3 linked regions of the Homo sapiens genome follow. The protein of the gene in region 3 purifies or fractionates together with the protein of the main gene of each other region. This does not show direct contact. Each region holds a gene or a part of one and is shown on either strand. Other genes may lie near its edges. The genes, in order: TSC22D2, TSC22D3 and FAM117B.

Region 1 (3,470 bases), on a different chromosome or scaffold from region 3:
TCCTTAAAGACCTGTTAATAATGACTTACTGATAGTTCTTAAATTTTCAAAGTAAAACAATTTAAAGAATGCAAAAATAGTGAGCAATATTTGTACTCAATATTCATATTATGTTAGTGATACTTAAGTAGGAAATCCTTGTCTACCAAAACTTTTACTTGAATTCAGAAAGGTGCCTGTAGAAATTAACATGCACTGCATCTGTAGCCAGCTAGCTAATCAGAGTTAATGAGAACCAGTAGTTAGTTCTCCGTGTTAAAAGACTTATTTGAAGTAAAAATTTAATCAGATTAGCCACAAACAAACAAGGCATAAAATTGGGATGTACATGAGATTGCCAAATATTTTCTATTCTAGTTGTGCTGCAAGACATTGAACAAAATGTTAATGAATAACATTATAAATCAAGGAACTAAGTACATAGGCTTGAGTAAGCAACCCTAAGGATGTGTAGTAAGATTCCAAGTAGAGCTGCTACAGGTGAGATACTTAATGGAATGTGAAACTTCACTGTTGGACTGTTAACCGAAAAGGTTTGCTGGCTGTGCCCCTCCAGTGCTAACTGTGACATGTGATATTTAATACAGGTGGAGAAAAACTAGTCTTAGAAATGGGATTTTTGTGAAAATAGATTCCATTTTGATTCTGGGGCTGGAAAAACACTTCATAAACAAAGTAATAGTCTCCAAGGAAATGAATAATAAGGTTTAAAATGGTAACAGCAGTTATTACTACTTTTATATTAAGAAAAACAGTAGAAAAGGAGAGAAAATATGGGTAGTTCACAGAAGAGATAAATGGCAGTTTCTAAAGGTTCAACCTCTAGTAACCTAAGAAATGCAAATTAATGTTTTTGGCGAATTGTAATAAGTGTCCTAAGTAGCAGGACTTAACATAGAAAGAAAGACAGGCTTTCCTGTGTACTTTTAGAAAGTAATTTGGCAGTATGTATCTAGAGCCTTAAATAATAAGCTTTCCAGTGTAACGACAGGAGAAGATACTCAACTCATGGTCCATTGTTCAAAAATGCAGAATTATTGTGGTGTCTGCCCTCTGCTTTCCCATCATCCCCTCCCCTCAAAATCCAAACTATCCCTACTGTCAACCCTTCCCCCAGCTGATTGTTTAGGATCTTAAGTAACTTCCAATTCAGCTTTGGAGATTTAGTCTCCTGCTCCAAATAGTTGTAAATATTAACTGATTGAGATCCCAATTTGGAGGCACAGTCTTACAGGAATGCCATCTATCTAATTCTGTCAGTGTAATGCCCATAGAGCAAGGTCCCACATAAGCTTTTCTGTTTTAATTTAGCCGGTAAATCATAAGTAGAAATTTTTCTGATACGGTAATTGTCTACAATTCAAACCTAACTTTCCCCAAATAAAATTTAGTTTGTTCCGATGTGATCTCACAGCTTGCCACACCAAAAACAAATAGTAGGGGTTAGGAGGCATTAAATAAACAGTTTCCTTAACTCCTGATTGTCCAAAATAGCTGAATTTTTCCAATTCTATTTATAATATCCTATGCTAATTAGAAGTATTGAGATAACGTTTTATAATCAAGCCTCCAGTGACTGGGGATCACAGCTGCCATTATTCACAAGAATTTTCACAGGTGAATGATTATATTTCTCCAAGTTGCAAACTCCAGTAATTCATGGACCTTTTTTTAAAAAAAAAAAAAGTCTTAATAGAACCAGAATATCTCTGTTCTTGAAAATTTATCTTTGCAGAACCAGAAATAGCTAATTGTCTGGAAACAATTTTTAAGATTTGAAGTCACATTTTTAAAAGAAGCTTTATGGCTCAGTGGCAAGCACTTTGTGACATTTCTTTAATAATCCTATGAAAAGGACAAAACCCAGCCCTCAAAATTGACAATTTGAGGACATAATAAGCCAACTGATAATGCAGTGAGGAATACTTGTTACTATGTACAGTCAGGGATGGTTTTGTCAGGGTAGGTTTCCTCAAAAACATGACACCTGAGTCTTGAAGGTCATAAGAGCCAGAGGGAAGGGTGTTCCAAGCACAAGAAAAGAGAACTCAATGGCTTAAAAGTATAAACAAGGCTCCTAGGGCAGCCACAGAATTGCATTGGAGACAGGCAGGCAGTGACTTCCCCACTGACCTAGTATTTTGGCATCTATTCAGAAAGCAAGAATGATTTATTGAATGGTTTTAAGCAATGGGATACTATGCTCAAATTATGCTGGATGTGCACAATTCCAGTGGCAGATGGGAGGTAGGTTAGAGTAGCTGAAACTGGAAGCTGAGAAATAATTTAGGAGGGATGACAATCCGGAAAATAAATGAAAGGGCAAAATTACATAGGCAATTTTGTGAAGGTCATGAAGGAAGTTTGTCTTGGGTCTTTCTGTACCATTTTCCTCTCCACAATGAACATCCCATTCCCAGTGTCAGGTATCAGGTGCCTATTTTCTTTTTTTCTTTTTTCTTTTTTTTTTTTTTTGAGACAGAGTCTTGCTGTGCTCAGGCTGGAGTGCAGTGGCAAGATCTCGGCTCACTGCAACCTCCGCCTCCCAGGTTCAAGCGATTCTCCTGCCTCAGCCTCCTGAGTAGCTGGGATTACAGGCGTGTGCCACCATGCCAGGCTAATTTTTGTATTTTTAGTAGAGACAGGGTTTCACCATGTTGGCCAGGTTGGTCTTGAACTCCTGACCTCAAGTCATCTCCCCCGCCCGCCTGGGCCTCCCAAAGTGTTGGGATTACAGGCGTGAGCCACCGCACCCAGCTGCCTATTTTCTTGTCCCTCCAAAAAAAGATTAAAGAGTCCCAACTCATACTTGAAAGTTTGACTCGGTCTTTTCCTTCCAACAGTTATAAATCTGTGAAATGAAAGTCTTTGTTTCCTTAAAGGGATTTCAAGAATTTAACAAAAGGGTTGGGGAATGGAACCTTTGCTGTCACTATGCCTGTCTCTCAATTCTACCCTAAAGGTAAACTAAATGGAATCCTTTTATGGTGACTAGGATTAGGATGTTGATTCCAAAGCCTTTCCCTAAAATCTATTCCTTGCTCCCTGGAAAGGATAATACAGGTTCTGGCCCCCACTGTAGGTACTGACAGCCCAAGGCAGAATAGGTTTTGCTAGGCTTTAGCCTTTTATTCTTTGACATAGGTCAGTCCTGCAGGCTTCTTTTTTCTAAGTCTCCTGCCTATCCAAAACCAGACCTTTTCTCCCACCTCCTTCTGCTTCAAGCCTCTTAATAATCCATATTTCTATTTTCTAGCAATAGTAATAGTTTATTATTTAGTGATGTATACTTGCACCCCATTTACTCCTTTTCAATATTTCAGGATACATCTTTGTCCTGTATTTCTGTACCAGTTCACAGAATTTCTACAGCAAGATCCCTTTAAATGTATGGCTTTCCTTCATAGGTTGCAAGGATTACTTTATACAAGTGCTACTGTAACTATATCTTTTGTGGAGTACAATTGGTA
Region 2 (3,658 bases), on a different chromosome or scaffold from region 3:
AAGTATTCTCTTGCTTTTATTTATTTTTATTTATTTATTTTTTTCCTGAGACAGGGTCTCACTCTGTCACCCAGGCTGGAGTGCAGTTGCATGATCACAGCTCACTGCAGCCTCAAACTCCTGGGCTCCATCGATCCTCCCACTTCAGCCTCCCAAGTAGCTGGGACTACAGGCACACACCACCATGCCCAGCTAATTTTTGTATTTTTTTTTTATAGGGACGGGATCTTGCCATGTTGTGCAGGCTGGTCTCAAACTCCTGGGCTTAAGCGACCTGCCCACCTCAGCCTCCCAAAGTGCCAGGATCACAGGCATGAGCCACTGATCCCCTCTTGTTTTCCTTGACAATTGGGACCTTAGAGACTGGGGATTCTGAATTCGGTTTAGGTTTTGCCCAGTATGACATGCTCATTAGCAAACTAGAAGACCATTATTGCTGGTCATGGGGCTTCTCCAATATCTGGGGTAGACAGCCTTCTCCTAAGTGAACATATCCCTTGTTACTTCATTAAATTCCCTGGGTTTCTATCATCATACTTCAGCCATCGTTTTTACTTCTATTCAATTTAATGATTTGACATTTCAGGTTCCTGTTGGGTGCTTTTTTCCTTTGTCAACTTTCAAGGCCTCTCCTGCTGGAGAAGCTAGTCTCCCACCCCTCCTCCTGCAGTCCATTCCTTTGCCAAGAGGGCTCCTATATTTTTAGGAAGAAGAGCAGGGCACATTCTTGATTTACATCTGGTTTGTCTGCTTTGACCTGTCCCTGGCTCCCAGCTTCGTTCTTGGTTTCCTTGGAACACAAGAGTATAAGCAATTTGAGGGTAGGGCTGTGTTTTACTTGCTTGGTTTTCCCTTGGCTTTTAGTTATACAGCCAATATTCAATAAAGGTTTCTTCAGTTGGATGACTACTTAAATATTGACGTGGTCCCTTGTAAAGATTTTACAACTTTATACTGTGCTAGAAAATCCTTATTAATGTTTAAAAGTTGTTTTCCTTCCGTTTTAACCACATGCAGTAACTCTCATAGCCTGATGGAAGTCCTGATAGTGCTGTGTATATACATACGAATCAGTGAGAATGGGCATGCAGCCTGTTGGTATGTAAATGGTACCTGTAAACAATTGGGTTGGGGAAGAAGTGTATTTTAAACACCATCCTTTCAATCTTGTATTATGTAACTAATAACCATAACAGATTAATAACTAACACTTCTTGAACATTCACAATGTACCTGCATAATCTAATTTAATATTTACATCAACTCTTTGGAATGGATTTATTTATTTATTTGTTTATTTATTTATTTATTTTGAGACGGAGTCTTGTTCTGTCGCCCAGGCTGGAGTGCAGTGGCACGATCTCAGCTCACTGCAGTCTCCACCTCCTGGGTTCAAGCAATTCCCCTGTCTCAGCCTCCTCAGTAGCTGGGACTACAGGCGCACGCCACCACACTCGGCTAATTTTTGTATTTTTCGTAGAGATGGGGTTTCACCATATTAGTCAGGCTGGTCTCGATCTCCTGATCTCAAATGATCCACCAGCCTCGGCCTCCCAAGGTGCTGGGATTACAGGCATGAGCCACTGCGCCCGACCAAATGGGTACTATTATCATCCATTTTCATTTTATAAAGAAGGAAATTGAGGCTTGGAAAAAATTAAGTATCTTGCCCAATGCCTCACAATGAAGAGCAGAGCCTGAATTGTCTATGAAGAAAGAATTGTTAAGAACACTCAGTAACTAAACTAATGCTAAAGAAATTCTTGTAACACTTAAGAATTGTCTATGAAGCAGAGGTAAATGTGAGCTCAGAACCTTTCCAAATGGTCAAAATGTCCTTATTAGGTAGGGAAACCAACCATCCCAGTCCTGTGACATAGGACTGCCTGTGCTCAAACTGGAACAGTCCTAGGGAAACTGGGATGGTTGGTCACCCTGTTGTTAGGGGACTTCCCCCTTGTCATTTGAATATGCTTCTAATACTGGAAAACTTAGGAGGGAGATAGAATATTCTGGGCAAACAGCAGAAGTTTCCAATTTAAATGTAGCATATGAAAAAGCTTCCCAAGTTGACATTTGAAGAGCCTTCCTTAATTTTTCTGACCTGTAAGGTATAACAACCTGTAACAGGAGCTTTGACAGTATTCGTTGTGATTGCTGTTGCTGTAACCTCAAATTTTTTTCTAAGATTTTACCCAAAACCTCTTAATCAGCTCTATTCTACCTTTGACCCCAGAGCGTACCTGGCTAGTGTGGTCTGAAATACTCTGAATCCGATTTCCCTTCCAGCTCTAAAAACCCTAGGATTCTACCTTTAAGCTTCTGACCTGGCCCCAACTGGTTCCCATATATAAATGCTCAGAAAATGATAAAAATAGCAAACATTTCTAATTGCTTTATGTGTGCTAATTCATTTAATATCCCCTATTAATATAGTAACAAAGGGGAAGGATATAGATTCAGAGATCAGGTTTTCAAGAAAAATTTGTGCAAAAAATTATTTGTGCTTCTCTAAGTGAGTCTCAGAACAAGTAATTTCATAATGTATATTCCTGGACCTGGCTTCTGAGGTGGTGGCCACTCACACGGCATGATTTGAGTGGCTGCCTGCTGCAGTGCCTAAGTTCATACTATTTAAGATTCAGTTCTCTGTCCATGTACCATCTAAAATTCCTCTCCCAGAGCACCGCTGGTATGTAGACCACACTGTGAGAAACCCTGTATTAGAGATTGCAACGCATTGTCAACTAATTTACCATTTGATTTTGAGGATGGAGTTACTCGCTGTAGAGCGGTTTTGGGTTTCTGTGTGGTTAAGCCTGTCATTCTTTGCCTTTGTGATTTTTGCTTTTGGTATCAAGCTTCAAAAGTCCTTTCATAGCCCAAAGTAATTTAAAATAACTATTTCCTGAGTGCCTAGTGGTCTGACAAAGAATAGGCATTCTTGGATTAAGGGACCTTCTCCATTAAAAGCACAAATGCATTTGCAAACTTAACATTCATGGTTTGGATACTTCATGAGAACTCAGACTGGTAAGAAACTGTGTTTTTGCTGAGGCACAGATGTGAATCACATGTGCAAGGAGACTAGTAGGTGGGGGCCGGTCCTTTCACCAATGAGTGAGCCTGGTGCCCTACCCCACATCTACTAGTGTGTGTGTGTGTGTGTGTGTGTGTGTGTGAAAGAGAAAGAGAGAGATGTATTATATGCATATATTGTACATAGTACATATATATATATAGTGGTAAAATAGATATAAAATTTGCCATTTTAACCATTTCTAAGTGTACGATTCAGTAGCATTAGGTATATTAACAATGTTGTGCAACCATTATCATTCCCAAAATTTTGTCATCATCCCAAACAAAAACTCTGTACCCATTAAAGAATAACTCACCGTTTCCCTATTTTCCCCTCCCACTACCCCCTGGTAACCTCTATTCTACTTTCTGTCTCTATGGATTTGCCTATTTAGATATTTCATATAAATTGAATCATACAATATTTTGTGTCTGATTTCTTTCACTCAACATGTTTTAAAGTTCATCCATGTTGTAGCACATATCAGTACTTCATTCTTTTTATGGCTGAATAAAATTCCATTGTATGGATATACCTCTTTTGCTTATCCATTCATCTGTCAGTGGACACTTAGGT
Region 3 (3,302 bases):
GTCTCAAAAAAAAAAAAAAAAAAAAGCTGCTCCTTAATCTCACTACCACATACCCAGAAATCACATACTGATGTCATGTGATACTGGCAGTGATTTATATTAGGATGAGCCCTAATCCAAAACTGTATGGAGTTTTCAAAGGTGCTTATCGTTCATACTCAAGTTCTTCTTGTGTATTTTCCCCACTATGTGAAGCGTTAGGGGGGTAAATTAGCAAAATCTGTAGGCAACAAATCTCAGGGCCAACCACCACCACAAAGAAAAATGTCAGTCACAGGATTCTGCGGCTACAGTTTGGATCACTATCCACTGGATTACACTCCTGGCAAACTACTAGCCCAACCAAATCCACAAGACAACAACATCACAAGGGCAAAGGAGGAAATCCATGCACAGCCATTTCAGGATCTCTTTGGGGCTATGATACAGTGATGATTAAAGGTAGAATGACACCTGTGGTAAAGGAGGGAGAGCGTGTGATATATATATATATCACAGAAAACCAAAGGGGCTCCTTACTCTTAGCTAGCAATCAACGCTGGATAGCTTCCTTTTGGCTCACTGACTTTTAAATCAAGTTCCAATATGGGTGAGAACATATTAAAGCACTTGTCTTCAGACTACAACTTTTCTGACCACATGGTGAAATGTGTACAGGAGTAGTGAAGAAAACAGCAGTTATACAAATATTTCACCCAAAGCACAAACTTTTGACATCAAAAACATAAATCACATAATGTACGAATATTGCTTTTTAATCTCTTTTTATATATACTTGTTCAATGCATTTACCTATCAATCCTTGTTTGGGAGAAGAACATAGTCATGAGATTAAGATTGCTGGGAAAACGTCAACAATCCCTTTGGTCCCAAAGCTGAAAACAGCTGAGAAAAGCACACATCTAGAAAGGGAACAAGAAACAGAGGCCACCAAAGAATCTTTTGAATATCCTGTTTGCTACGTTTCAGAAAATGTAACATTGGTATATTATAAAATAGTCATTTTCATAGAAAAGATGGTTCTTGCAGCATCAGTCACATCTCCCTTTAGGAATCATGTTGGCAAGGATCAGGGGTGTGTGTGTGTGTGTGTGTGTGTGTGTGTGTGTGTGTGTGTGTGTTTTAAAGAAGTCTAATTCGAAAACAAAAACGTGATATTGTCTCTCCAAAGGTAAAGAATGAGACCTTTCTTGTTTCAATCAGTGCTTTGATAAAAAGCAGGCTAAGCACTGAGGGTTGGCGTTCACAAGTGGGGCAGAGCCGTCACGGGGGATCCTTTCTTCCAGAAGCCTCGCCGTCACATGTCACTGGAAAGCTGGAGCACATCACAGCCGACCAGAAGCGCACGATGCCATCAGAATCCAGTGATCTGAGGAGGTTCCCAATTTCCCAGAACAACAGCCACGTTGCACTGTGACCTATCCTTCAGCTTCCTCAATTGGTTCTGGTGGTGGGAGTAGAGAAGCTGATGGCATGACTGTACTTGTTCCTCGAGAGACTCGGTCTTGCTCTGTGTTTGTAGACAGGGAGGCCACAGCAATAGGCTGCAGCAGAGTGGTTGTCATGCCAGTGGTGACTGTCAGGCTGTGGCCAGAGCCCTTGAGTGTAAGATCCGGGGTAGGAAGGAGTGGCTTGAGGATGCTGACGAGGCAGAAAGCAGATCCACTTTTAGGAATGAAATTCACCTTGTTTTTGTCAGGACAATAAAAGGCTGGGATTTCATGAAGCTGTTTTGGCCTAGACATAGAACAGACAACCCAATGCTTTTAAGTCACTGAACTTAAAAAATAAAAAAAAAAAAAAGCTTGGAAACAAGCTCTTTTATTTTTTAAAAACAGTTAACTTACATCACAGAAAAGGAATATAAAACTCAAGCTCTGTCCCCCACCTTCAAACATAAAGGACCAAAGTGCTATCTGACATATGATTCAACATATGTATCTTAGAATGCAAGAAGCCCCCATCATCATTGCTGCTTTCAGTTCCCTTGACAGCCCCATTACCATGCAGGTGGCTCAGCCCGATGAGCACTGCATGTCAATGATGAGCTAAGACGGTCAAGGGAATAATGAATTTCCTATAGCAAAAGAAAATCTAGATGTTTAAAGACATGTATGCCTTTATGTATGGTATATTCCACTGCCATGATTTTTCCGAGGTCTATAGTATACTGGAAGGAGACAGCAAGGAAATTAAAGATATACAATGTCCGTCTTTTGCTAAGTTCCACCACTGCATGACTAAAACTATGGTAGGCCTGGCTTTTCTCTTCAAGTGCTTGTAAAAATCTCTTTGATGGAAACAATTCTTTGAGTTAACCCTGATAGTTTTCTGAGCAATATAATGTAAATGTGAAATCAAAATGAAAACTCCTTTGCTTTGAAAGCTTTTTATTAAAGCCAAATCCTTCCCTTTTCCTAGGTCCTCCTGAAAATTAACCCAAATTGTTGAAAAAGATATTGGTATTAATGGTATTTCATGAAAATTAAAAGTATAAAAAAACTACATTGTTAAAGCAACACAGAAATGCCACAGAACTAAGGTGGGAGAACCTAAATAAATCAAGACTTAGGTTGATTCTCATCTCTTCCAATGACAATAAAAATCTAAATCAGCCAGCCATGGTGGTTCACACCTGTAATTTCAGCACTTTGGGAGTCTGAGCGGGGAGGCTTACTTGAACCCAGGAGTTCCAGACCAGCCTGGGCAACATAGTGAGACCTCGTCTTTATAAAAACCTTAAAAAAAAAAATAATCTAGTCTGACGGCATGCACCTGTAGTCCCTGCTACCTGGGAGGCTGAGGTGGGAGGATAGCTTGGCCCTGGGAGGTGGAGGTTGTACTGAGCCATAATCGGGCCACTGCACTCCAGCCTGGACAGCAGAGCAAGACCCTGTCTCACACACACACAAAAAATCTAAATCAGTTCAATAAAAATGCAAGTGTTCACTAAATTCTGAGGATACAAAGTTGAAACAATCCACAAGGAGGAGGTGGACTAAATTTATAGTTCTTGTGGGGTGAGGAGTGATGGGGACAGAGCTGTGTTTCAACATAACTAGCTTCCTTTATAATCTTGTGTATATGATGCATTTAAAACATTATTCAGAGAAGGGATCCACAAGCTTTACCACACAGACTGCCAAAGCTGTCCACAGCACAGAAGAGGTTAAGACCGCCACAAGAGAATCTAACAGGCATGATTACAGAGGTTTATAAAAAGGTTTACAGGTAGCACAAGGGGGTGGATAACCTGTGGCCTGTAGGAAGAGGGAGGGTTTGGTAGTAACCCTCTGAGCTGG

What was found.
Region 1: the proteins of FAM117B (region 3) and TSC22D2 purify together in Homo sapiens (affinity purification with mass spectrometry; 2 studies listed by BioGRID and IntAct, with this or other methods). This does not show direct contact.
Region 2: the proteins of FAM117B (region 3) and TSC22D3 purify together in Homo sapiens (affinity purification with mass spectrometry; 2 studies listed by BioGRID and IntAct, with this or other methods). This does not show direct contact.

Annotation. Positions count from the first base shown.
Region 1 is NC_000003.12:150,460,180-150,463,649, forward strand, and holds part of TSC22D2 (TSC22 domain family protein 2), read left to right. Parts: 3' UTR 1-3,470. UniProt on the Homo sapiens protein: Reduces the level of nuclear PKM isoform M2 which results in repression of cyclin CCND1 transcription and reduced cell growth.
Region 2 is NC_000023.11:107,769,240-107,772,897, reverse strand, and holds part of TSC22D3 (TSC22 domain family protein 3), read left to right. Parts: intron 1-3,658. UniProt on the Homo sapiens protein: Protects T-cells from IL2 deprivation-induced apoptosis through the inhibition of FOXO3A transcriptional activity that leads to the down-regulation of the pro-apoptotic factor BCL2L11.
Region 3 is NC_000002.12:202,763,881-202,767,182, reverse strand, and holds part of FAM117B (protein FAM117B), read right to left. Parts: intron 1,738-3,302; coding exon 1,419-1,737; 3' UTR 1-1,418.